Linked DNA regions of Homo sapiens. The protein of the gene in region 1 purifies or fractionates together with the protein of each later gene. This does not show direct contact. Each region holds a gene or a part of one and is shown in the gene's direction. Other genes may lie near its edges. The genes, in order: TAF4, NAP1L4, EPB41L3, SUPT3H, ANAPC7, ANAPC1 and SMCHD1.

What was found.
Region 2: the proteins of TAF4 (region 1) and NAP1L4 fractionate together in Homo sapiens (co-fractionation; one large-scale study listed by BioGRID). This does not show direct contact.
Region 3: the proteins of TAF4 (region 1) and EPB41L3 purify together in Homo sapiens (affinity purification with mass spectrometry, with the first as the bait; one large-scale study listed by BioGRID). This does not show direct contact.
Region 4: the proteins of TAF4 (region 1) and SUPT3H purify together in Homo sapiens (affinity purification with western blotting; one study listed by BioGRID). This does not show direct contact.
Region 5: the proteins of TAF4 (region 1) and ANAPC7 fractionate together in Homo sapiens (co-fractionation; one large-scale study listed by BioGRID). This does not show direct contact.
Region 6: the proteins of TAF4 (region 1) and ANAPC1 fractionate together in Homo sapiens (co-fractionation; one large-scale study listed by BioGRID). This does not show direct contact.
Region 7: the proteins of TAF4 (region 1) and SMCHD1 purify together in Homo sapiens (affinity purification with mass spectrometry, with the first as the bait; one large-scale study listed by BioGRID). This does not show direct contact.

Annotation. Positions count from the first base shown.
Region 1 is NC_000020.11:61,974,298-61,976,589, reverse strand, and holds the end of TAF4 (transcription initiation factor TFIID subunit 4), read left to right. Parts: intron 1-254; coding exon 255-422; 3' UTR 423-1,792; downstream 1,793-2,292. UniProt on the Homo sapiens protein: The TFIID basal transcription factor complex plays a major role in the initiation of RNA polymerase II (Pol II)-dependent transcription.
Region 2 is NC_000011.10:2,968,330-2,971,829, reverse strand, and holds part of NAP1L4 (nucleosome assembly protein 1-like 4), read left to right. Parts: intron 1-295; coding exon 296-382; intron 383-1,895; coding exon 1,896-2,027; intron 2,028-3,500. UniProt on the Homo sapiens protein: Acts as a histone chaperone in nucleosome assembly.
Region 3 is NC_000018.10:5,425,498-5,428,997, reverse strand, and holds part of EPB41L3 (band 4.1-like protein 3), read left to right. Parts: intron 1-532; coding exon 533-685; intron 686-3,500. UniProt on the Homo sapiens protein: Tumor suppressor that inhibits cell proliferation and promotes apoptosis. Modulates the activity of protein arginine N-methyltransferases, including PRMT3 and PRMT5.
Region 4 is NC_000006.12:44,951,435-44,954,934, reverse strand, and holds part of SUPT3H (transcription initiation protein SPT3 homolog), read left to right. Parts: intron 1-327; coding exon 328-440; intron 441-1,517; coding exon 1,518-1,625; intron 1,626-3,500.
Region 5 is NC_000012.12:110,386,709-110,390,208, reverse strand, and holds part of ANAPC7 (anaphase-promoting complex subunit 7), read left to right. Parts: intron 1-1,585; coding exon 1,586-1,697; intron 1,698-2,316; coding exon 2,317-2,470; intron 2,471-3,500. UniProt on the Homo sapiens protein: Component of the anaphase promoting complex/cyclosome (APC/C), a cell cycle-regulated E3 ubiquitin ligase that controls progression through mitosis and the G1 phase of the cell cycle.
Region 6 is NC_000002.12:111,874,194-111,877,693, reverse strand, and holds part of ANAPC1 (anaphase-promoting complex subunit 1), read left to right. Parts: intron 1-3,500. UniProt on the Homo sapiens protein: Component of the anaphase promoting complex/cyclosome (APC/C), a cell cycle-regulated E3 ubiquitin ligase that controls progression through mitosis and the G1 phase of the cell cycle.
Region 7 is NC_000018.10:2,662,226-2,665,725, forward strand, and holds part of SMCHD1 (structural maintenance of chromosomes flexible hinge domain-containing protein 1), read left to right. Parts: intron 1-3,500. UniProt on the Homo sapiens protein: Non-canonical member of the structural maintenance of chromosomes (SMC) protein family that plays a key role in epigenetic silencing by regulating chromatin architecture.

The DNA of each region.
Region 1 (2,292 bases):
CCAAGCACTGTGGGGCATTGGGCAGCATCTGAGTGTGCCCTGTCCTGAAGGTGCAGCATGGGGCCTCCTGCCCTTGCCCCTGCCCTGGCAGGGCCCTGGACAGCACCCCAGCTCCAGCTGTGGGCCTACCGGAAGGAGCCCGTGCCAGGCCTGGCCTCCTCTGGAATCGGGGTACTTGGCTCAGATACACAGGCTCATTGCAAGCCCCACTCTGAGCCCCACTAACACACTGTCTTCTCCTTTTTCATCACCAGGGGTCGGGCCCCGGCTCAGTGGTCCCAGGCAGCTCGGGTGTCGGAACCCCCAGACAGTTCACGCGACAAAGAATCACGCGGGTCAACCTCAGGGACCTCATATTTTGTTTAGAAAATGAACGTGAGACAAGCCATTCACTGCTGCTCTACAAAGCATTCCTTAAGTGACACAGGAGGACGCCTGGGGACTTTTTATATATTTGCAGATTACGCCTTTTTGTAACGAGCAAATGGGATATTGTTTAAAAAACAGCCACCTCTTTACAATGGAACAGTTTTATATTCCTGTTTCTAAATCAGCTCTTCAGTGTGAAAGAAAACACGTTTCTGTAACAGAGAGAACACAAAGGCCTGTGGATACTCTTAAAGGACAATTAAATCTTAACTCATCTTGATTGAGTGGCCTTCCTGCCAAACAAGCCATATATAAAGACTGATGGAATCGTTAGCAAATAATTAGCTGCCCTCTGTCAACTCATAGCAGTTTCTGCATTATTTGTGCATTTTGGTTTAGTTCTACCTAACTTACTATGTAGGTGTATGTCTACAGCCGATGACCTCATTTCGTTTATTTTATTTTTGTAATAGTCAGTTGGCAAAGCAAACTGATTTTTTAGACTATTTATCTTCCTTCCCTTCCCCTCCCACCCCGCTCTCCTCTCTGCCCCCTGCCCTCCCCTCCCCTCCCTTCCCCTCCACTCCGCTGAGAATCCTGGAGGAATACACAATTCATCGTTGCACCCCCACCTCAGAGTGTAATCGCATTTCTGCTTGGTAGAGGCCGAGCCCAGCAAAGGTGGCTCCTTCTGAATGTGTGGTCAGCATCTGTACAAATGCATTTTATTTGCTATAGTTTGTAAAGCTGTAAAGTTAAAAGAGATGAAAACCTTTTCAGCATAAATATATTTTACTTGCACTGTGTTTTTTAGCTAAAAGTGAAAACCTAGATTAAATAAAATCAAAGTTGAGAAGAATCATCAAAAGACTGTTTCTCGGTGTGAATCAAGTGTTGAAAAATGGTTGGTGTATTTTGTCAGTAATTGTACATAACTTTTGGCACATGACATAGAAATGGCTATGTAAACTATAATTATTTTGCTAAGAGACTGTATGCAAGCCTTGGGCCGACTTTACAGACGTCCAGAGCAAAGCCCCTTCTTTGTACCTATTTTTTTATTACAAATATACTAATTGGTTCTTTCTATTTTCAGAGGTTATTGTATGAAATTGTCTATTGATAGTACTTTTATGACTGTAAATACTCTGGCTTTCTCCGTGTGAATTCTCACATTAGACTTTAATTCGAGCGCGTGTGAACTGAACGCTGATCAGTATTTTTTATCAACACCTGAGAACTGTTACACCTTTTATTTTGTCTTTTAGGAAATCCCTGTCTTTCCATTTTTTCATGTAAATTTTGCACAGTTACTTGTTCATATGTAAATATTTTACTTTCAGAAATGAAGTTTTTAATTGCTATTGTTTTATATAGGATTGAAAGAAAATTAACTCCTTTATTAAAAACAAATTTATCTGTATTTGTTTTGCCTATTTTTCCTCCGTTTTCCAGTTTTAGATTCTACTGCCAGATTGCACTCCGGCTCTGCTGAGGTGCTGGTTTCTGAGCCACCTGTTGGAATCTGTAGCTGAGCCCCATCAGAGCCGGGAGAAAGAACTTTCTCTGTGAGGACAGGGGCCGAGCTACTCTCTGCGTGGAGTCTGGGGGCTGGCGGCTGCGCTTAACACCTTCTGCTGTCACAGGTGGAGATGAGCTGGGCACAGCTAGGAGGGGCGGCGGGAGGCCCAGTGCTGGGGGAGATGTACACAGAAACGCACGTGGCGAGCCCGGCTGAGGTGCCCAGAGGGCCCCAGCCTTGACGCAGACCTCCTGTGGCGAGAGAGGGCGTCTCCAGGGCAGTTTGTGGTATTGGTTGGTCCTGACAGGTCACAGCTCCTGCTGGGCCCTCAGAGGCTCAGCGCCAATGTGTACCGCTCCCTGCCTTCGAGCACCTTGGAGAGCCTTTGGGAACGGTCTCTG
Region 2 (3,500 bases), on another chromosome or scaffold:
GCTGTATTGGTGCCCAAAGTGTGATGGCTTCTGCACCATCAGGAAGTTGAAAATCTTTAGCTGAACCATTGGAAATCGGGGACTGTCTTTATTTTACATCTTTAGGTGAAACATCCAGGTTTACCCAGGGAATCATTTAATATTTTTCTTTGAACCCTAAAATTTAGAATCTTAAAATAAGTTATAAAAATATCCAGTTTTCAAAGTCTTTTAGTAGACATTATTTATAAATTTAACTCTTGAGTTCCTAAGTAAGCTAATAACATAATTCTAATAAGGTCTCATTTTTATGTAGAGAAGAGAATTTATCACCGGCGATGTTGAACCAACAGATGCGGAATCGGAATGGCACAGTGAAAATGAAGAGGAAGAGAAATTGGCTGTAAGTCTTTAGAAACATGTGACTCATGTTCTGTTTTAATACTGTTAAAAATAAGCATTTTTTAATGATTTTTAATGACTAGTAAACTTATGTGCTTCTAACAGTAGGTGCTGCTGCATCATTAGGTTGGGTTTAGATTCCTTTCTGATATGGATCTAGCATCTGACACAGTACTGTCAGTTAATAGGAGTAAGATGTAGTGCCACCTCAGTTATCTGTGGACAGGAGCATATTGAAATAAGGGATCAGACCAACAAAGATTAAAACATCAGAGAAAGCAAAGATGAAGAAGAGATGCCCCTGTGTTCTCAGTCACTGGAAGATTGGGGGAGTTGTGAGGGGAGTGCCTTCCTGCTCAGTGGCATGGACTAGCTTGCCCCCTGAGAGGTGCTCCGCCAGTGGATTGGTTGCAGATGGTGGTTGTGGTGTGGCCATCAGTCACCTGCTCACAGCCTTTTTCTAGTGACTGGTCCCATTCCAGTGCTGTGAAAACTCCCAGTGTACCATGGATTAACTTTGTCAGCCTGATTTTATGTTTGGGAGACAAGTAACTTTTATCCTATAACTAACTTTTTGCAGTTTTTTTTTTGGGGGGGGGGTGGTATATGATGATTTTGGTAGCCATATGTGTTTTTGATGCTTTAAAAATATATAGAACCTGGCCTAATTGAAGCCATGGCTGTGGATTAATACAGTTGTGAATCAGTTTCTAACAGCTCAAGGGAAATCTGCCTTTGCTGATTTAAAAGGCCTTTCATTTCAAGATCATTTCATCATAACAATCCCGTTTGGCAAGGCATTCAGAATTTCCCATAGTTGCATCTGGTGTTGCGTTTCACCTCCCTTGGTCTACCTTTTCCCTGGGGCCTGACTCCCCTTCCTTTTGCCATGTGGCCTTTCTGGTCACTTTCTGATGCTTGCGTGGTGTCTGAGCTGGCATTTATAGCCACTTCCTTACAAGCTGGATAAGTTGCTGAGCACTTTCTTGCTGCAGATACTGCTGCGGCAATTTTTTTTTTTTTTATTTCAACTTAGCACCCCACAAATTTTAACAAGAGGTCAGATTATTAGTCCAAGTGAACTTCTTTATCCTTGCACTGGACTTTTTTTGCCCAGTGCTAGATGTTCTGCATATTTGCATTGCATCTCCTTAAGGTTGATGTACAGTCTTTGCATCTGCATTTGTGATGATGATTGTCTCAGGATGGCACCTCACAGAGCTAGCACTGGATGGCCTTTCCCAGCGTCGGTGGCACTTTGTCATCTCTTTAGTTTCTTCGCCTTTGATGTGAAATGGTACGGAATTCCGTGTGGATGTAATGACTTGAATGCTTTTTCCTCAGAAGCATCTGAAAAGTGTCGCGTGGCCCAGTGAGTGGTTTGGAGGTGCAGACTTAGAAAGCAAGGTGTTTGATGGGAGATAGTAGAGGATTCGGCAACGATATTCTACGTGAAGCCGCTGCATTGTTTGTAAACTTTTATTTTCGTTACCTATGTTGCATCTTTTTTTTAGGGAGACATGAAAAGTAAAGTAGTCGTCACAGAAAAAGCAGCGGCAACGGCTGAAGAGCCAGATCCCAAAGGAATTCCAGAGTTCTGGTTTACCATCTTCAGAAATGTGGACATGCTGAGTGAATTAGTCCAGGTAAGCACACTTCTGTCTTGTAGAGAGATTATGTGCTAGTCTTCTAACATTACTTATCTATGGCATTTTTTAAGCACTACACTGGGCATTGAAAGATTGTTCATAGTGGGCGGAAGGGCACTTTCTCTGACCAGGACCTCAGATGAGCAGTCCTGATCTCACAGTGAATGGTTTATTCACAGTGGGGCTTCCATGCTGTCTTTTGCAGTTCTTGGTGGAAAGCTGGGCGCTTCAGCCTGATCCAAAACTTTCAAATCAGTTCCTTTTACCTCTTGTAAAGCTCTGTTGTCTTGCCTGTGGGAAAGCCTATGAATAGATTCCAGAGCCCATCTCTGTCTTCCTGTGGTGTGAGTGTGCAGGAAAGGGTGAGGGCAGGAGACCAGAGCAGAATGAATTTTGAAGGGATGAGCTGTGTGTTTGTTTGTGTGTGTGTGTGTACACACACATCTCAGTGAATTTTTGAACAAGTTGCTAATATTTTCTGATCATTTCTCTTGAAAAAGTGTCTATTTTTTTTAAAAAAAGAGGCCAGGCATGGTGGCTCATGTCTGTAGTCCCAGCACTTTGGGAGGTCAAGGTAGGCAGATCGTTTGAGACCAGCCTGGGCAGCATCGCGAAATCCCATCTCTACAAAAAATAGAAAAGTTAGCTGGGCGTTGTGGTGTGCGCCTGTGGTCCCAGGTACTTGGGAGGCTGAGGCAGGAGGATCACCTGAGCCGAGGAGGTTGAGGCTGTGGTGAGCTGTGATCACGGTGCTGCACTCCATCCTGGTGGGTGACGAGACCCTGTCTCCAAAAAAAAAAAAAAAAAAAAACAACACAACAACAAAACCCAACCACCATTTCTGATTTTGTCTTGCCTTGACATTTCACTTTCTGTAGTGAAATGGTGAACAAATTAAAAGGTAACAAATTTGGTTTTCCCTGAAATGAGTTATAATAGAAGTTTCTAGAACAGAGAAACAAATCTTGCCTTAAGTCTCACTGACTGACTTGCCGTCAGTTTTTATTGCTCCAGCGTCCCCAGAAACAGCACGTCTGCATTCAGACTTGCTCAGGACAGCTGCAGGCTCTGCTTGTGTGGGCAGAGTGCTTCTCCCATCACAGAGCATAGGCACTGTGCGTTGCAAACTGCTACATTGTAATTTGCACAGGATTTTACAGCTACGGTTTTTAATGGTTTTCACAAATGTATCACATTGCTGCCTCTGCTACCTCCCTTGTTTAATGCTTGTCCTGTGTCCTAAGCCAAAACTTGAGAAAAGATGGAAAGAATGATGTATTTCTTATTCTCCTTCCAGACCAGAAAGCATCTAAAATAGAACAGCCTTGGTTTTTCCTGATCTGAGCTTCCTTTTCATATGAAAAGGTGGAATTTAAGAAGACTAGACCATACTTTTAAAAGAATGCCATGCACCAGAATTTCATTGGAAAAATTAAGTAATGTCTACCAGAGCCGTAGTCTCACCCTGTG
Region 3 (3,500 bases), on another chromosome or scaffold:
AACAACAACCAAAACCCTCATAGGAAAAGACAGGGTCCATCTTGTTAGCATACGTGTTGGTTAAGAGTGCTGCCTCTGGAACCAGGCTGTGTTCAGCTGGAACTCTGTACCTATTTTCTCATCTGTAAAATGGGAATAATAATAGTGACCATCTCAATTACAGTGAATATTAAAAGAGTTAATATATGTAAAGCAGAGCAGTGCCTGGCAATTGACAAGTGAGAACTGTGGCTACTATTATTACCGTTATTAACATACCTTCATGAGCTGGGCCCTCTTGGTGTGCAGTATTTACTTTGTAAGTCTGAGACACCTGGGAGAGCAGATTTTATTCTAACAAACCTCTCCATAGTGATAAACATCTTCACCAAAAGGCTAATGTTTAATGGTAATGTTTTAAAAATGGCTGCATCATTTTGCATAAGTAAACCAGCCATTTATAGTTTCTGTCGTGGATGCTTAAATACTTTACCCAGCAGAAAATGGAAATAAGTTAGATACTGATCTGTTGTTTCTTGCTTTTATTTTCCAGGACTCAGAAGGGGTAGAAATTATGTTAGGAGTTTGTGCAAGTGGTCTGTTGATATATCGCGACCGGCTGCGAATAAACAGATTTGCCTGGCCCAAGGTTCTAAAGATTTCATACAAACGGAACAACTTTTACATTAAGATCCGGCCGGGAGAGGTAAGTATACCCACATTTGCCTGTGCGTTGGGAGGAAAGATCCCTGATAGCAAGCAAGCATTTAAATTATCTGCTTATGAGTTCTGAGCATTGTGGGACACAGTGAATGACATCTAAGTGCCTGAGAGAGTTTATTGTAGGTTTGCCCAATAAACAGTAATAAATATTCTCTTCTTTATTATATTGTTCCAATATTTCCTACTGCATACGTTAATTGGAGGGTTTTTAAAAACATATTTTAATATAAAATCCAGTCTCGGCCGGGTGCGGTGGCTCACGCCTATAATCCCAGCACTTTGGGAGGCCGGGGGCGGGGTGGGGGCGTGGATCACAAGGTCAGGAGATCGAGACCATCCTGGCTAACACGGTGAAATGCCATCTCTACTAAATATACAAAAAATTAGCCGGGCGTAGTGGCAGGTGCCTATATTCCCAGCTACTCGGGAGGCTGAGGCAGGAGAATGGCGTGAACCCAGGGGGCGGAGCTTGCAGTGAGCCGAGATCGTGCCACTGCACTCCAGCCTGAGCAACAGAGCGAGACTCCGTCTCAAAAAAAAAAAAATTCCAGTATCATTAATAATTTTGTGTATATTTCAAGCAGTAATGGATAAATCTCTTCCTCCACATGCTGTTGTTATTTCTCCATGCTCTTTCTGTTTGTCCTGCAAATCTGGTTGTACTTTAAAGTGAACAGTTTAGAGGTCCTGTACTTCAAGGTACAAGGAATATTAGAACAAAGGACAATTAGTGTGAATTATATCAATGTTCTATAGCTCAATATATGTTTGTTTGTTTGTTTGTTTGTTTTAAGTCAGAGAAGCTAATGAGACAATCAGAATTGTTAACTAGTCCTTACTCCTTGGACAACAGCCTCCATGATCAACTTACGTTTATATCTTCCTTAGTGGTTTGTACATAATAGTAACACATATCTACTCTTATTTACTTAAGAGATAGTTAATAAATACCTCAAATTTCTAATTGGTATGGTTAGTATAACAGAGGCAGTCAAAGCTCAAAGATTCTAGCATACTTATATCTCTGAACATTTTCTGATATGATATAGAATTATCTCTTATCTTCAAAATCTACTTCTCTACTGGAGTTTCTTGGTGGAAAATGCAATTTAAAAAATCAGAATATCGGCTGGGCATGGTGTCTCATGCCTGTAATCCCAGAACTTTGGGAGGCCAAGGGTGGGAGAATCACCTGGGCCCAAGGATTTAAGGCTGCAGTGAGTTTGATCACACCACTGTACCCCAGCCTGGGTGACAGAGCAAAGACCCTGTCTCAAAAATAACAAAAAAATTGAAACATAAAGCATGTAATGATGTTTAGTATGAACATAACATCATACCTATCTATGATAACTGAAATAATCTGTAAGCTTTTCATGTAAATAACTAAAATTATAGTGTTTTAAAAATATTTCCTAAAGATTGTATATTAAACTTATAGCCAATAGATAGTCATTTGACTTCATTGAACATTTGTTAAGTGAGCACCTATTTATTGTCAGACATTAGAAATCTAAAGACAAATATGACCTTGTTCCTTGTTAAGGGATTTTCTATTTAGCAGAAAAACGGACTCATATACTTTGATTGTAACAGCATGATGCAAATGAGATGATATTCTGTAGACATGGAGTGAGCATAGTATTGTGAGATGCCAGAGGGGAGAGCTAGAGAAATGAATCAGTGGACAACTAGTAAGTCATGGGAGGTTTTAAATCAGGATGTGACACAACTAGGTGAATATTTTGGAATGATACATTTCTTAATGAAATTCAACGACTTAGAAACATGATGTGATAAGACCTAAACTAGGGCAGAGGCTGTGGGAATAGACGGGAGGGAACAAATGCAAGAGAGAGGTTTCAGAGGCAGAAGCAGCAGGTCGTAGAGACAGGATAGAGGAAGTAATTAAAAGAGGGAAAAGTCCAGGATAATCAAAGGTTTTCAGTTTGCATGATTGAAGCCAATGGAGATGACATTCGGCAGGAGGGAAAAGGGGGAAAATTTCAGAAAAACAACTGAAATCCCTTTGAAACAGATTTTCAGGGAGTAACTCTTGCATAGGAAGGAGTTGAACAGAGTTATCAACTGTATATATTTTATTCAAGGCCTTAGACATGGAATAAATTACTCAAAGAGCAAGGCAAGTTAGAGAAAGAAAAGGCCCAAAACTAGAACTCTGGATAATACCACTATTTGAGAAAGGGCCAAGGAGCTGAAGAAATGACAGCCAGAGAAATAAAAGAAGAAACAGGCTGATGGATGACCAGGAGATGAGTTTCAGAGGAAAGTGGTTAGCTAGCAGTATCATATGTTACAGAAAGGGCACGCAGGATGTGGACTAACAAAAGTGTGTTGAACTTAACAGTCAGGCCCCATGATGACATTTCAGAGTTCAGAAGGGCAACAGGAGCACCTGCCAGGTGTGTTGAGGTCAGGAGTAGGTAGCAGAGGCAGCAGGTCGTGGCTTCTGCTTCCTAAAGTTTAGCAGTGAGGAGTGAGATGGGGTTGTGGTGCTGGCATAAGCAGGCTCAGAGAGAGCTGGTTTTTCACTCCTCTTCTCTCTGCTTTTACAATCCTATTTACAGCCTGAGAAAAGTGAGTGAGAAGAAATTGGAGACACACAGACTCTGAAGAAGTTGAAAGAAATTGATATAAAACACAGAGAAATAGATATTAATAAACTATTAATACCTATTCAGGTAGTCTAGGAGCCTGCATCATCCTTGCCTACAGAGGTTGGCAGAGACTCTTCCCAGCTTCTTGCAGCAGAGTGCAAGCTGACTCTTCCATATAAC
Region 4 (3,500 bases), on another chromosome or scaffold:
TGAGCGGTAGCCAATGGTAAATCTGACAGTGTGAGAAGTATTAAACATTAAATGCTTTAATATACTATGTCATATAGCATAGGTGTAAAATAAAAGACCCAAATACGTAAGAGAGTTGTTGAAAACAACCATTGTGTTGCCTTATAACTGAGAGTTAAAACTTGGATTTCTTGGGGCCAGAATATCTAGACATTAATTATGCATTTTATGTGCATTATTTTTTGTGTACAATTCTGAGTATACTTTTTTAATTTTGTGATAGTAATGTGCAGTATTAAAACACTTTAAAAATTAAAATTTCTGCACTTGTTTTTTTTAAATGGCCAGCCAAAAAAGCTTCCAAATTTCGAGACTGGTTGGACTGCAGCAGTATGGAGATAAAACCCAATGTTGTCGCAATGGAAATCTTAGCATATTTAGCGTATGAAACTGTGGCACAGGTAAGAATTCTAATCTGTCATATCGGGCCACACTGGCTGGTTTTTCTTTATCTCTGCCCATGATCAATTCTTCTTCTCCCTGCTGCTCTACCAGTAATAACAGCCATGAATTCTCTCCTGTGGCATTTACATCATTTTCTAAAATTTAGTTCAGTTATGTGTCTCTGCATCCTCAATTCAAGTGGATGCTAGGATAAAAAAGAGTTCTTGTACCTTTATCTTAATGAGAAATGGAATCCCTGCATGCTTTTTCTTGACATTGAACTCAAATCCACATCTGCCTTGTTTAGAGATTATTTTTGAGCTTTGAAAAACACCTTTCTACGTATGTGAGAATTTAGGAGTACTTACCAAATTCTGGGTCTGGAATCTCGCCCTCTAAAAGACTTTCTCAAGATGTGGTCTTTAGACCACAGGCATCAGCATCTCCTTGGTTCTTGTTTAAAATGCAAATTCTGGCCAGGCGCGGTGGCTCTTGCCTGTAATCCCAACACTTTGGGAGGCCGAGGTGGGTGGATCACCTGCAGTCAGGAGTTCAAGACCAGCTTGGCCAATATGGTGAAACCACATCTCTACTAATAATACCAAAAAAAAGTTAGCCGGGCATGGTGGCGGGCACCTGTAGTCCCAGCTACTCAGGAAGGCTGAGGCAGGAGAATCATTTGAACCTAGGAGGCCGAGGTTGCAGTGAGCTGAGGTCGCACCATTGCACTCCAGCCTGGGCAACAAGAGCGAAACTCCATTTCAAAAATTAATAAAATAAAATAAAATAAGCAAATTCCTAGACTATATGCTTAAAACAGACCTACTGAATTAGAATCTCTGGACTTAAAGCCCAGAAATTTGCACTAGTGACTGTGAAATAAATTTTGAGAACTACTCTCCTAAAAAGTCAGAATATATCATGACTAGGTCCATTCACCAGTCAATGAAAGTGTGTGCTCATGTCTACAATATAGATTTTTAGGCAAGCAGGATTATCAGTAACATTCAGAATGTATTGCTTTTAGGTTTGCCACTTCAGTGGCATTCATGATTATTTCTAGCTATGTGACTTTCATTCTTCTGGTCTTCTAGTTAGTGGATCTGGCTCTTCTTGTGAGGCAAGACATGGTAACCAAGGCAGGGGACCCCTTCAGCCATGCCATTTCTGCAACCTTCATTCAGTATCACAACTCTGCTGAGGTAAGTACAAAAAAAATCTGTCTTAAAACATTTGTGAATTTTGACACATATCTGGTATTTACATTAGTGATTCTTTAATAAAGATTATGCAGGAGTGTATAACCTTCAGTCAAAGAATCTTAATACATTAGACATTCAAATAAGTATTTAATTGAGCACCTACTGTGTGCCAGGCCCTGACAGTCCACTTAAGACAATGACTTTTTTCACGTTTTTCTTGCTTCACTTAGCTTTCCTACCCCTTCATTGAAAGGGATAGTTGCAAGGCATTTCTTATTTTTATGGGAGATGAAAAACTGGTTTAGGTAATGTTGGAAAAGTCATTTATTTCTTTGTGCTTCAAAAGATAAGAGGGTTATCATTATTATTCACAAAATAATCCCTGGCATTTATTGATAACTTTCCATTTCAGTTATTGATTCATCTCTAAAAATGATTTAAAGAAGCTTGTCTTCATTCATCTTGAGTTTTTAGATTGCCCCTACTATGTGAAAATTATATTCTTTTCTGATCTGGCTTTGCTATGGGAACCGTAAAGTTTTCTTTCCAATTTTAAGGCTCTGTATAATAACTGTGCACCACTTTTAGTATACAGAATCTCCTCTGTAAACAGCATCTACCTCAAAACCAGAAATGTATTGCAGTGTCTTGAATGTATTTGCCAATATTCGACCCTTTTCACTAACAAAAACAGCAGTTTCACGTAATTCAATCGAATATCCATAGATAAGACAGCAAGAAGGTTAAGTTCGCATCTACATGTAGAGTTGTGAAGTACGTTTTGGATCAAGTTGGTTGAAATATATAACCTGAAAATGGCTAAGCTCTGTTTTATAGCCATACCTTGATTACACATTTCTACTCCTTGTTAAATATCTATAGGCAAGGATAGTGGTTCAAATCATTTCTAAGAAGTAGTTGTAATCTTCTTTAGGTCACACACCCCTTTGAGAATCTGATGAAAACTATAAACCCTTTTTCTATAAACACATTCACAAATTTTGCCTACAGTTTCAGATTGTTCAGAGACATTCTGAAGCCATTCTATGGATCCAAGGGATCTGTGAACCCTATGGACCCTAGGTTTAAATTTCTCTGCTCTAGGATACATAGAAAATATGTTAACATATATGCCCATATAGCATCTTATTACAAACAAAAGGACAATTCAACATTTTCTTATGCCCCTTGGAAAATCAAATTGGCTTGGAAACCAAATAGGGATTAAAATGTTTATGCCCATTAAAAATCCATTTTTTTCTTAGAAAAGGTCATACATCATTATCAGTCAACATACAAAAGTCCCTAAAGCTTACTTAGTTGATTAATCACTATTTGTTTTCTTTATGTTACAAACCCAAATTATGATGTCAAAAAACCCCCTTTAAAATGTCTTTGATGTTTGTTCACTTTATGAATATGTGTATAAGTATGCTTTCCATTAACATCAGACAAATTTGTTATAACATTTCTAATTGAGAAAATTTACTGTGAACACAACGGGCCTAGTTTTCTTTTAACATTCAAGTGATTGCTTGCATGCCTAGGAAAACTCTTTATTTCCCCTCTTTTCTTGGTTCTCCAGGGTGGCCAAGCTGCCCTAGGCAACTGCTCAGCAACCGCAGCCGCTGTTCCCAGCTACCCAGCAGTTGAGAGGAATATCCTATATGTGCTGGATTTCCTGGGCTCTCTGGGAGGTGGGAGCATGAGTGTCAGAGAGCCTCCTGACAAAATATGTTAGTATAAGCCTCAAACTTTTTTCTGGCTGGCAGACACCCCTCCCCTCCTGTGACTGGTAGTCAAGATGAATATTCAGAGACTGGAAGTCTTCCTTCCTGCCCTTTATCACTTGACAAAATCAGCAGCTAACATCAA
Region 5 (3,500 bases), on another chromosome or scaffold:
TAATCCCAGCTACTCAGGAGGCTGAGGCAGGAGAATCACTTGAACCCAGGAGGCAGAGGTTGCAGTGAGCTGAGATCGTGCCATCGCACTCTAGCCTGGGTGACAAGCGTGAAACTCCGTCTCAAAAAAAAAAATCTAATTTTAAATTGGAATATTGTGTTTATCTGTGTACTATTAGGAAGGTCTTTTATCACTTGCCTATAACTTCTACATTCTTAGGAACTTTTAGATTTTCTGGCTTTTTTTTTGTTTTTGTGGGTTTTTTTTGTTGTTTTTTGAGACGGAGTCTCGCTCTGTCTCCCAGTCTGGAGTGCAGTGGCACGATCTCGGCTCACTGCAAGCTCTGCCTTCCGGGTTCACGTCATTCTCCTTCCTCAGCCTCCTGAGTAGCTGGGACTACAGGCGCCCGCCACCACGCCCAGCTAATTTTTTGTATTTTTTAGTAGAGACGGGGTTTCACTGTGTTAGCCGGGATGGTCTCAATCTCCTGACCTCGTAATCCACCCACCTCGGCCTCCCAAAGTGCTGGGATTACAGGCATGAGCCACTGCGCCCGGCCAGAACTTTTAGATTTTCTCATTTCCCAGTTGCATGTTAGGTAGGATTATTTTAATTTAGCTTTACAAAGTTACATATTTAAATTACGCTAAAATGCAGCTGTCTGCACTCACTGGATTTAAATAGTGTAGCTGATTTTTGTAGCATTACTTTAGTGAGTTAGTACCTACGGGCCAAAGCCTTAAGTGTTAGAAAGGCTAGAGTCTAGCCACAAGTCGAATTGTCAAAGAAAAGCCAAGTATTATACTTCTTTATCTGTCTTTCTGTATCATTTCCTTATTAGGAAAAACTGAGCTGATCCTTCTTAACTAGCTATGTCAAGAGTTTCTCACTTTCTTATGTGAGATAGTTCATCTTCTGTTTTAAGATCAAGAAAGAATCAAGTTAACTAGCGTTCTCTACCATTTCTTAAATGAATGTTATTCCAGTTTCCAGAGGGCAGCGTCTTTTGTTCAGATATTACTGGGCCTTGTGGGAAGGTAATGTGACTTTCCTCTTAGGGAAGGCAGGAGCTAGGGAAAGGAAGGGTAGTAATTTCTTTTCTTTTCTTTTTTTTTTTTTTTTTTTTTAAGATGGAGTCTCACTCTGTAGCCCAGGCTGGAGTGCAGTGGCGTGATGTCGGTTCACTGCAAGCTCCGCCTCCCGGTTTCACACCATTCTCCTGCCTCAGCCTCCCGAGTAGCTGGGACTACAGGCTCCCGCCACCACGCCCAGCTAATTTTTTTGTATTTTTTAGTAGAGACGGGGTTTCACTGTGTTAGCCGGGATGGTCTCAATCTCCTGACCTCGTGATCCACCCACCTCGGCCTCCCAAAGTGCTGGGATTACAGGCGTGAGCCACTGCACCTGGCCAATTTCTTCTTTCTTTTGAAGAATGGGGTCAGTCTGCCTTTATTTGCACAGGGTTGTGGGTAGATTTTCCAGTAAAAAGTAAATAACTGGTAATGAAAATTAGGACTTTTTCATGGTGAGAGATTTTCTTTGCAATATACGCTTATTTTGCTATCTGTTATTTGTGTTTGTACAGATAAACATGATGCTGGCAAACCTGTACAAGAAGGCTGGTCAGGAGCGCCCTTCAGTCACCAGCTATAAGGAGGTGCTGAGGCAGTGCCCATTAGCCCTTGATGCCATTCTAGGTAGAGATATTTCCTGCCTGTTTTCATGGCATGTTTACTGTCAAAGATAGTAGTTCTCAATCTTGCCTGTACATTAGAATAACTTTATTTTTTTTAAAAGTTCCCCTGAAGAGAGTGATTTAGTAGGATTCCTGTTGTCACATATTCAATCAAGAAATACTTAATTATGGTTTTTGGCCGGGCATGGTGGCTTACACCTGTAATTCTAGCACCTTGGGAGGCTGAGGTGGGTGGATTGCCTGAGCTCAGCAGGTCGAGACCAGCCTGGGCAACATGGCACAACCCCGTCTCTACTAAAAATACAAAAATTAGCCAGGCATGGTGGCGCGTGCCTGTAGTCCCAGCTTCTCGGAAGGCTGGGGCATGAGTATCGCTTGAACCCAGGAGGCAGAGGTTGCAGTGAGCTGAGATTGTGCCACTGCATTCCAGCCCAGGGGGACAGAACAAGACACTGTCTCAAAAAGAAAAGAAATACTAAATTATGGTTTTTCTCTCATGCATCGCTCAGAATAGGGAAGCAGTTGCCTTTTAGCCAAGGGAAGATGTAGCCCGTTGCTCCTTGCATGTGGAAGAGAGATATCGTGCCTTACTTTCTTTCTTCTGCTTTCTGTTGGTTTAGGCTTGTTGTCCCTTTCTGTAAAAGGGGCAGAGGTGGCATCCATGACAATGAATGTGATCCAAACCGTGCCTAACTTGGACTGGCTCTCTGTGTGGATCAAAGCGTATGCTTTTGTGCACACTGGTGACAACTCAAGAGCAATCAGTACCATCTGGTGAGAGCCACAAAGTTAATTCAGTGTTCTTGAGGCCCTTTGCTTGTCTGGAAGTCTGATGTATCTGAAGTAGCAAAAAGAAAAATGAGATGCTTTGCTGTTGGTGCTGCAGCCAGTCTCTGGGATGTGTTAGTCTTTTATACTGAATGGTCCCAAATGTAATCATGTAATCATCTCTGTTGGAGACCTGTAAAAATAGAAATCTGACTGAGTTTAGCTCTGTGCCTGCACAGGTAGTAACCCTTGCAAAGCAAAGCAGGCTACCTTGGTGTGTCATTTTTTTTTTTTTTTTTGAGACAAGGTCGGTCTCTCTCTCTCTCTCTCTCTCTCTCTCTCTCTCTCTCTCTCTCTCTCTGTCTCTCTCTCTCTCTGTCTCTCTCTCTCTGTCTCTCTCTCTCTCTGCCTCTCTCTCTCTCTCTGTCTCTCTGTCTCTCTCTCTCTCTCTCTCTCTGTCTCTCTCTCTCTCTCTCTCTCTCTCTCTCTGTCTCTCTGTCTCTCTGTCTCTCTCTCTCTCTCTCTCTCTCCCAGGCTAGAGTGCAGTGGCGCAGTCACAGCTCAGTGTAGCCTTGACCTGTCAATCTCCCGGGCTCAAACCATCCTCCTGCTCAGCCTCCTGAGTATCTGGGACTACAGGCGCATGCCACCACACCCAGCTAATTTTTGTATGTTTTTGTAGAGATGGGATTTCACCATGTTGCCCAAGCTGGTCTTGAATTCCTGGGCTCAAGTGATTCTCCCACGTGGGCCTCCCAAAGTGCTGGGATTATAGACGTGAGCCACCATGCCTGGCCTTGGTGTATCATTCTTCAGCCTGGAAGAAAATCATTTTGCACTCACCAGAAGCTTGGTTTATTGCAGTGTCTAACCTAGCTTGCCTGCTTAGGACTAGGGATTTTCTTTATATTCAGATAAAGTTCAAGGACAAGAAGAGACTTGGGCTTGTGTTATGCAAAGTCGTTTACTTGAGTAATAAATAGGTGTCACTTGTGAATGACATTACCTTTAACACCATGTAGCGTATGTTGTGTTC
Region 6 (3,500 bases), on another chromosome or scaffold:
TCCCGCCTCACCCTCCCGAGTAGCTGGGACTGCAGTTGCCCGCCACCACACCCGGCTAATTTTGTTTTTATATTTTTAGTAGAGCTGGGGTTTCACTGTGTTAGCCAGGATGGTCTCGATCTCCTGACCTTGTGATCTACCCACCCACCTCGGCCTCCCAAAGTGCTGGGATTACAGGCGTGAGCCATCATGCCCAGCCAAGCTTGATAATTATTAAAACTGGCTGATGGGGATTCATTATCCTATTCTGTTTACTTTGTATTTATTTGAAATTTTCCATTATAAAAAGTTTATAGTCTACATTCTGGTTTCTTTAAAAAAGTCACGGAGAAAGAAAAAAAGGTGGGGACTGTTCTACATTGAAAGAGACTAAAGAGACATCACCAAATGCAGTATTTTTTGATCCTTGTTAAATGAACTTTGATTGAGTCCTGGTTTTCTAGCTAAAAAGATATTTTTGGGGAAAATTTGGGAAAGTTGAAAATTACTGGCCAGTAGCTGATGTTAGAGAAGTATTATTTTTTTCTCAGGGACGATGATTTTATGGTTTTATAGGAGAACATCTTTATTTTTAGAAAAGGCATGGTGAAGTATTTAGGGGTGAAATGTCATGATGTGTGTGCAATTTATTTTTAAACAGTCAGCATTCCCATTCCGAAAATCCCATATGTACACAAATGCACACACACAAACAAATATGGCAAAATTTTCATGATTGTTGGATATAGGTGAAATATGTTTGCTGCATTATTTCAACTTTTCTTACTGAAAATTTTTATAACAAAAAGTTGGAGGAAGAACTAATGCATTTATTGTAGTTGAATTAGGGTTGACGAGGTTTTGGAGGCTTTGACTAATGTTAAGTTTCATTTTTGTAAATGCTGAAATCTTTGTATCTGGATACTGCTTCCTCCCACTCCTCCCGCCTACCGTTAACTATTTCCTGATGAGTACTGTATTCTATTTATTGGAAAGGATAAACTGAATCATTATTCCAACATTTGAGGGCATATGTGAAAGCATTTGTGTCCTGGAGTGTTGAAGCCAGTGATCTTTTTGATGGTAAATTTTTTCCCATATAATTCATATAGTTAGTATAGATGTGAAAAGTGCATTTGATGATATCCAAGTAGTTCTTTGCTTCTATATCTTCATCTTAATTTCTCCAAGAACAGTTGCCTATTTACTAGATTCTATGGAAGTGCAGTTAGATATATTATCTCCTTTATCTTAAGATCACTTGTAAGTGTAATTGTAAGATTTGGAATTTCAGTCTTTTGATCTGGAAAATATATTGTTACTTAATCTTCTTGCTAATATGGAGAAAGATAATTTTCTATTTTGTTTATGAAATAATATCAGGTATATGTGACTCAGATTTTATCTGTTCATTGTTTTACCTATCCTGCAAGTATTTTTTTTTTGGTTGTTCTTTTTATTTTTTCATTTATTCTTTTTGTTTTTTAATAGAGATGGGGGTCTCACTATGTTGTCCAGGCTGGTCTTGAACCCCTGGGCTCTAGTGATCCTCCTGGCTTGGCCTCCTAAAGTGTTGAGATTACAGGCGTGAGCCACTGTGCCTGGTCTTCTGCAAGTATTTAGTCTCACTCTGTTTCAGCCATTATGCTGGGGCTACAAAGGTGAATGTAGTTTCTGCCATTGAAGGACTCATAGCCTAGAAAGGAGAACAAACAGATCACCTGAAATGCTGTATTCTGAATGCTGTATAATAACTACCTGTCCACAGAGTGATGAGAGCCCAAAGGACTGAGTGCCAAAGGGAGGGTTTTTCAAAGAAGATGCTATTTGTGTTATAAAATGGTGGCAGAAGGGCATTCTAGGCAGAGGAAATCACAGCAAAAAGAATTATGGAAAAAGATGACTTTTTAAACTTCAGAATGGCTGTACACGAAGTGTGGGTGTGGAGAGATGCAAGTGGATGCTGGCAGTATACAGACCAAAGGGCCTTGTATATAAACCAAGGAATTTGGATTTTAAACTGTGTGCTGAAGGGAGCCTGCCAAGGATTTTAAAATGGAAGCGATCAATTTTGTGTTTTGAGAAGAGATTGCTTTGTTAGCAATATATATATAGGATTGACTGGAGAGGAGGGAGACTGTTGTCAGGGGCACTATTTTGTGACTGTTCAGGTAAAAGATTGGTGCCTTGGCAAAGAAGGGGTGATAAAGCAGAGGGAGATGTGGAAGGGGTTAGTGATCTCTTAGATATCAGGGATAAAAGAGATGTTAAAATATTTACTTTTAGAGGCTGAGAGGATGGGATTTCATCAAAGGAAGTTGAGACTGTAATCGGTGCATTGTAGATTTTGGACATTTCAGGTTGGAGCACAGCTCTCATGCATGGTTTTCTTCCTGAATTTTCATTTCTTAACCATTAAAATCTCCCACAACTCAACAATAAAACAAACTACCCAATTAAAAAATTGGGCAGAAGGACTTAAATGGACATTTTTCTAAAGATGCACACATGGTCAGTAAGCACATGAAAAGATGCTCAGCTTCGCTAATCATTAGGCAAATGCAGATTACAACCACAATGAGATACCACTTTACTAGGTTGGCTGTTATTAAAGAAACATAACAAATGTTGGTGAGGATGTCCAGAAATTGGAACTCCTGTGCATTGCTGATGGGAATGTAACATAGCTGCTGTGGAAAAGTTTGGCGATTTCTCAAAAAGTTACACGTGTAGCCAGGCATGGTGGTGCATGCCTGTACTCCCAAGCTGTTCAGGAGACTGAGGCAGGGGGGTCATGTGAACCCAGGAGTTCTAGGCTGCTGCGAGCTAGAATCATGCCTTGCATTGCAGTTTGGGTGACAGAGTGAGACCCCATCTCTTGAAAGAAAAGTTATACTTAGAATTACCATTATGATCCAGCAGTTCCAGTTCTAGGTATATGCACAATTGAATTGAGAACAGGGATTCACAGATACTTGTACACCAGTGTTTTCAGCAGCATTATTTATGATAGCCAAAAGGTAGAAACAACCCATGTCCATTGACAGATGAATGGATAAACAAATGTGGTATATGCTAACAGTGGAATATTGTTTAGCTTTAAAAAGGGATAAAATTCTGATACATGTCATAACATGGATGAACCTTGAAAACATTATGTTAAGTGAAATAAAATAGATATAAAAGGACAAATGTACAGTTTCACTTACATGAGATACCTAGCACAGGCCCTTTCATAGGGAAAGTGGAATAGAGGTTACCAGAGCTCAGGGCATTGGGAAATGGGGAGTATTGTTTAATGGGCACGGAGTTTCTGTTTGAGATGAGGAAAAAGTTCTGGAAATGTGCAGTATTGTACAAGCTCACAAATTGTACTAAGCTCGTCAATTTAATGTTAATGCTACTGAATTGTCTACTTAAAAATTGTTAAAATGTTAATTTTCATATTGTGTGTATTTGACCACAGTTTAAAAAAAAACACAAAATGCTGTTAAATAATAAGTGATTGCCAGGTATGTCAG
Region 7 (3,500 bases), on another chromosome or scaffold:
AAAAATAATAGACTTATGTGGGATTATATGGAATAATTAGATATGTTTAGGTGAACATAGATCTTAAAAAAATCATTTGCACATAGTTTTTCAGTAACTACAGGATGCATAATTACATGATTTAACAAGTGGGACATTGGCCAGGCCTGGTGGCTCACGCCTCTAATCCCAGCACTTTGGGAGGCCAAGGCAGGGAGATCATCTGAGGTCAGGAGTTTGAGACCAGCTGGCCAACGTGGTGAAACTCTGTCTCTACTAAAAATGCAAAAATTAGCCAGGTGTGGTGGCACACGCCTGTAGTCCCAGCTGCTTGGGAGGCAGAGGCAGGAGAATGGTGTGAACCCGGGCGGCGGAGCTTGCAGTGAGCTGAGATCGTGCCATTGCACTCCAGCCTGCACAACAGAGCAAGACTCCATCTCAACAACAATAACAACAAAAAACCAAAAAAAAAAAAAAAAAAAAAAAGGGACATCATAGAAATAAAAAAGTAGTAATGAATTAAAAAATACACGACTGTCATGGTTATATGAAACCTAATAAAAATCTATAAGGTCATTTTTGTCTCTGTTAAACAAATAGAATCTTCCCAGTCAGTTTATGTTCATGGCTTTATTTCTCTAGGGTGGAATTGCATGGAATATGAGTATCTTTTAAGTTTACTAAAGTATGCCAAATTAATTACTTTCTTTATGTTTGACTTTTTTTCAGTCATATCAGCAGTGTGTAAGGTACCTATTTCTCTGTACAGAGGCCTACACTTGATGGGCTCAGAATTTAACATTTTTGCCTACCTGATGAGAATAAGTTATATTAATTTCACTGATAACTAGTGATGTTGATCTTTTTATGTTGTCTGGTCTTTTTCTTTATGACTTGTGCTATTTGCATCTTTTGAGACAGAGTCTCACTCAAAAGTCACCCAAGCTAGAGTGCAGTAGTGTGTGATCACGGCTCACTGCAGCCTCGGCTTCCCAGGCTCAGGGGATCGTCCAACCTCAGCCTCTTGAGTGGTTGTGACTACACGTGTGCACCACCATGCCCAGCTATTTTTTTTTTTTCCATTTTTTGTAGAGATGGGGTTTTACCACATTGCCCAGGCTGGTCTTGAACTCCTGAGTTCAAGCAATCCGCCCACCTTGGCCTCCCAGAGTGCTGGGATTACAGCTGTGAACCACTGTGCCTGGCCCACTGTTTGTACCTTTTCAGAAATCCCTTTATGCTCACTCAAAATTATTTCCCTATGTGTTCTTTTACAATTTTGGGCTAATGTACAACTGCTTTAATTCTCCTGGAATTTATTTTTGTCTAAGTTAAGGTGTGGATTTTATCTGTTTCCATGTTGAGATAACTAGTTGTCTTAATATCATTCATTGGATAGTTTATTCTTTCCCCACCAATTTGTAATGTCACCTCTCTTGTTTGCTAGGCTCTGCATCCATATATATGTGGACCTGTCTAAGGGCCCTCTATTCTCTTCCACTGGTCTATTCCAGGAATTTTTTTTTTTAAGACGGAGTCTCGCTCTGTCGCCCAGGCTGGAGTGCAGTGGCGCGATCTCACCTTACTGCCAGCTCCACCTCCCGGGTTCACGCCATTCTCCTGCCTCAGCCTCCCGAGTAGTTGGGACTACAGGCGCCTGCCACCACGCCTGGCTAATTTTTTTGTACTTTTAGTAGAGACGGGGTTTCACCGTGTTAGCCAGGATGGTCTCGATCTCCTGCCCTCGTGATCCACCCTCCTCAGCCTCCCAAAGTGCTGGGATTACAGGTTTGAGCCACCGCGCCCGGCCTATTCCAGGATATTTTAAAGTAGAAATTTTCTTATGAAAACCTTCAGACACAAAGAGAGAATCATGTTATGAACCCCAGTGTACTCATCCAGATTCAAGTTAATAGGAATTTACCACACTAGGATCATTTTTGTTTTTGTAATGTATTTAAGGCATATTCTAGGTCTTAGGTCATTTCACCCCATATACTTCAGCCTGAATATGTATTATCAAACCATTAAAATAAAGCATTTTTAATATTGTCTAATGTCCCTGTCCATATTGAGTTCTCTGAATGTTTAAAAGTATCTTTTTATAGTTGGTTTGTTTAAATCAGGATCTGACATAGTCCTCACATTAAATTTGTTTTTTTTTTGTTTCCTAATTATTTTCAATTTAAAGCATTTGAGCAAATTCCTCCTCCACCAGTCTCTTTAGTTTTCCTGCAGTTGACCTCTTGAAGAAATCAACTAGGTCTTTAATATTCCACATTATGGATTTGTTTGTGCTCTTTTTTGGTGTTACTTAATTTGTTTTATCTCCGTATGTATTCTGTAAACTAAAAGTTAGCTTTAAAGGCTTGATTTGATTTAGGTTCAACTTCTTTGGGGTCAGGAGGCAAAGAATGCTTTGTAGGTAGTACTGATACTTCATATGGCATTACACTGGGAGGCACGTGATGTGTGGGTGTTTCACCCACTCATAGCAATGCTAACATTAAAATCTTGGGATTCACGTGATTTCAGCAGGATTCCTCCATAAGGAAGTTTTGATCTGACTTGCCATTCCTCCTGTGTTTATTAGCTGGAATTCTTTAAGGAACAACTTTGCCTCATCAGCCAGAGCTATTTTGGTTATCCTGAAGTACCATTGATACAAGAAAAGCAGTGTAAATAATTTGTTCTTTCCCTTTAATTTGTCAGTGTTCAGAGTGACAAGTTGGTGCCCTAGCTCATCCCAGTGGTGAGCAATAATGGTTTTTATTAATATCATTTTTGAAGATTTGAGTATCACTAGTCTAGATTTTTTAGATGTTTTCAATAAGAATGTTAATCTTTAGACTAGTCCATTACTACCCGAAACAGAAGCCTTTTCTCTTAACTATATATTGCTGTATTGTTTCATTTTAGACAGAGCATGTATGTTTTAATTCTAATGTAAATGAAAATGTTAACCACTTTTCTAATTCTCATTTTTTGATTAATGTGATTTTACAGTTCATGTGTTCATTGGTCATTTGTATTTTCTCCTTTTCATTTTTTTGTGTTTTTACTTTTTCTCTTTGTTGATCCTTGTCACCCTTTTGTTTCTTGTTGCAATTTCCCTCTAATTTTTTTTTTTCTTTGAGACGGAGTCTCATTCTGTTGCTCAGGCTGGAGTGCAGTGGTGTGATCTTGGCTCACTGCAACCTCCGCCTCCCCAGTTCAAGTGATTCTCCTGCCTTGGCCTCCTGAGTAGCTGGGATTACAGGTGTGCGCCACCACACCTGGCTAATTTTTGTATTTTTAGTAGAGACAGGGTTTCACCATGTTGGTCGGGCTGGTCTTGAACTCCTGACCTTGTGATCCGACGGCCTCAGCCTCCCAAAGTGCTGGGATGACAGGCATGAGCTACCATGCCTGGCCAGTTTCCCTCTAATTTATAATTTGCTTTAATTTTTAAAGTTATTCGTTTGAATGGACCTGTATGTCTTACAAAGCATGGCTGTTCTTCCCTCCGTGCTATAAAATGC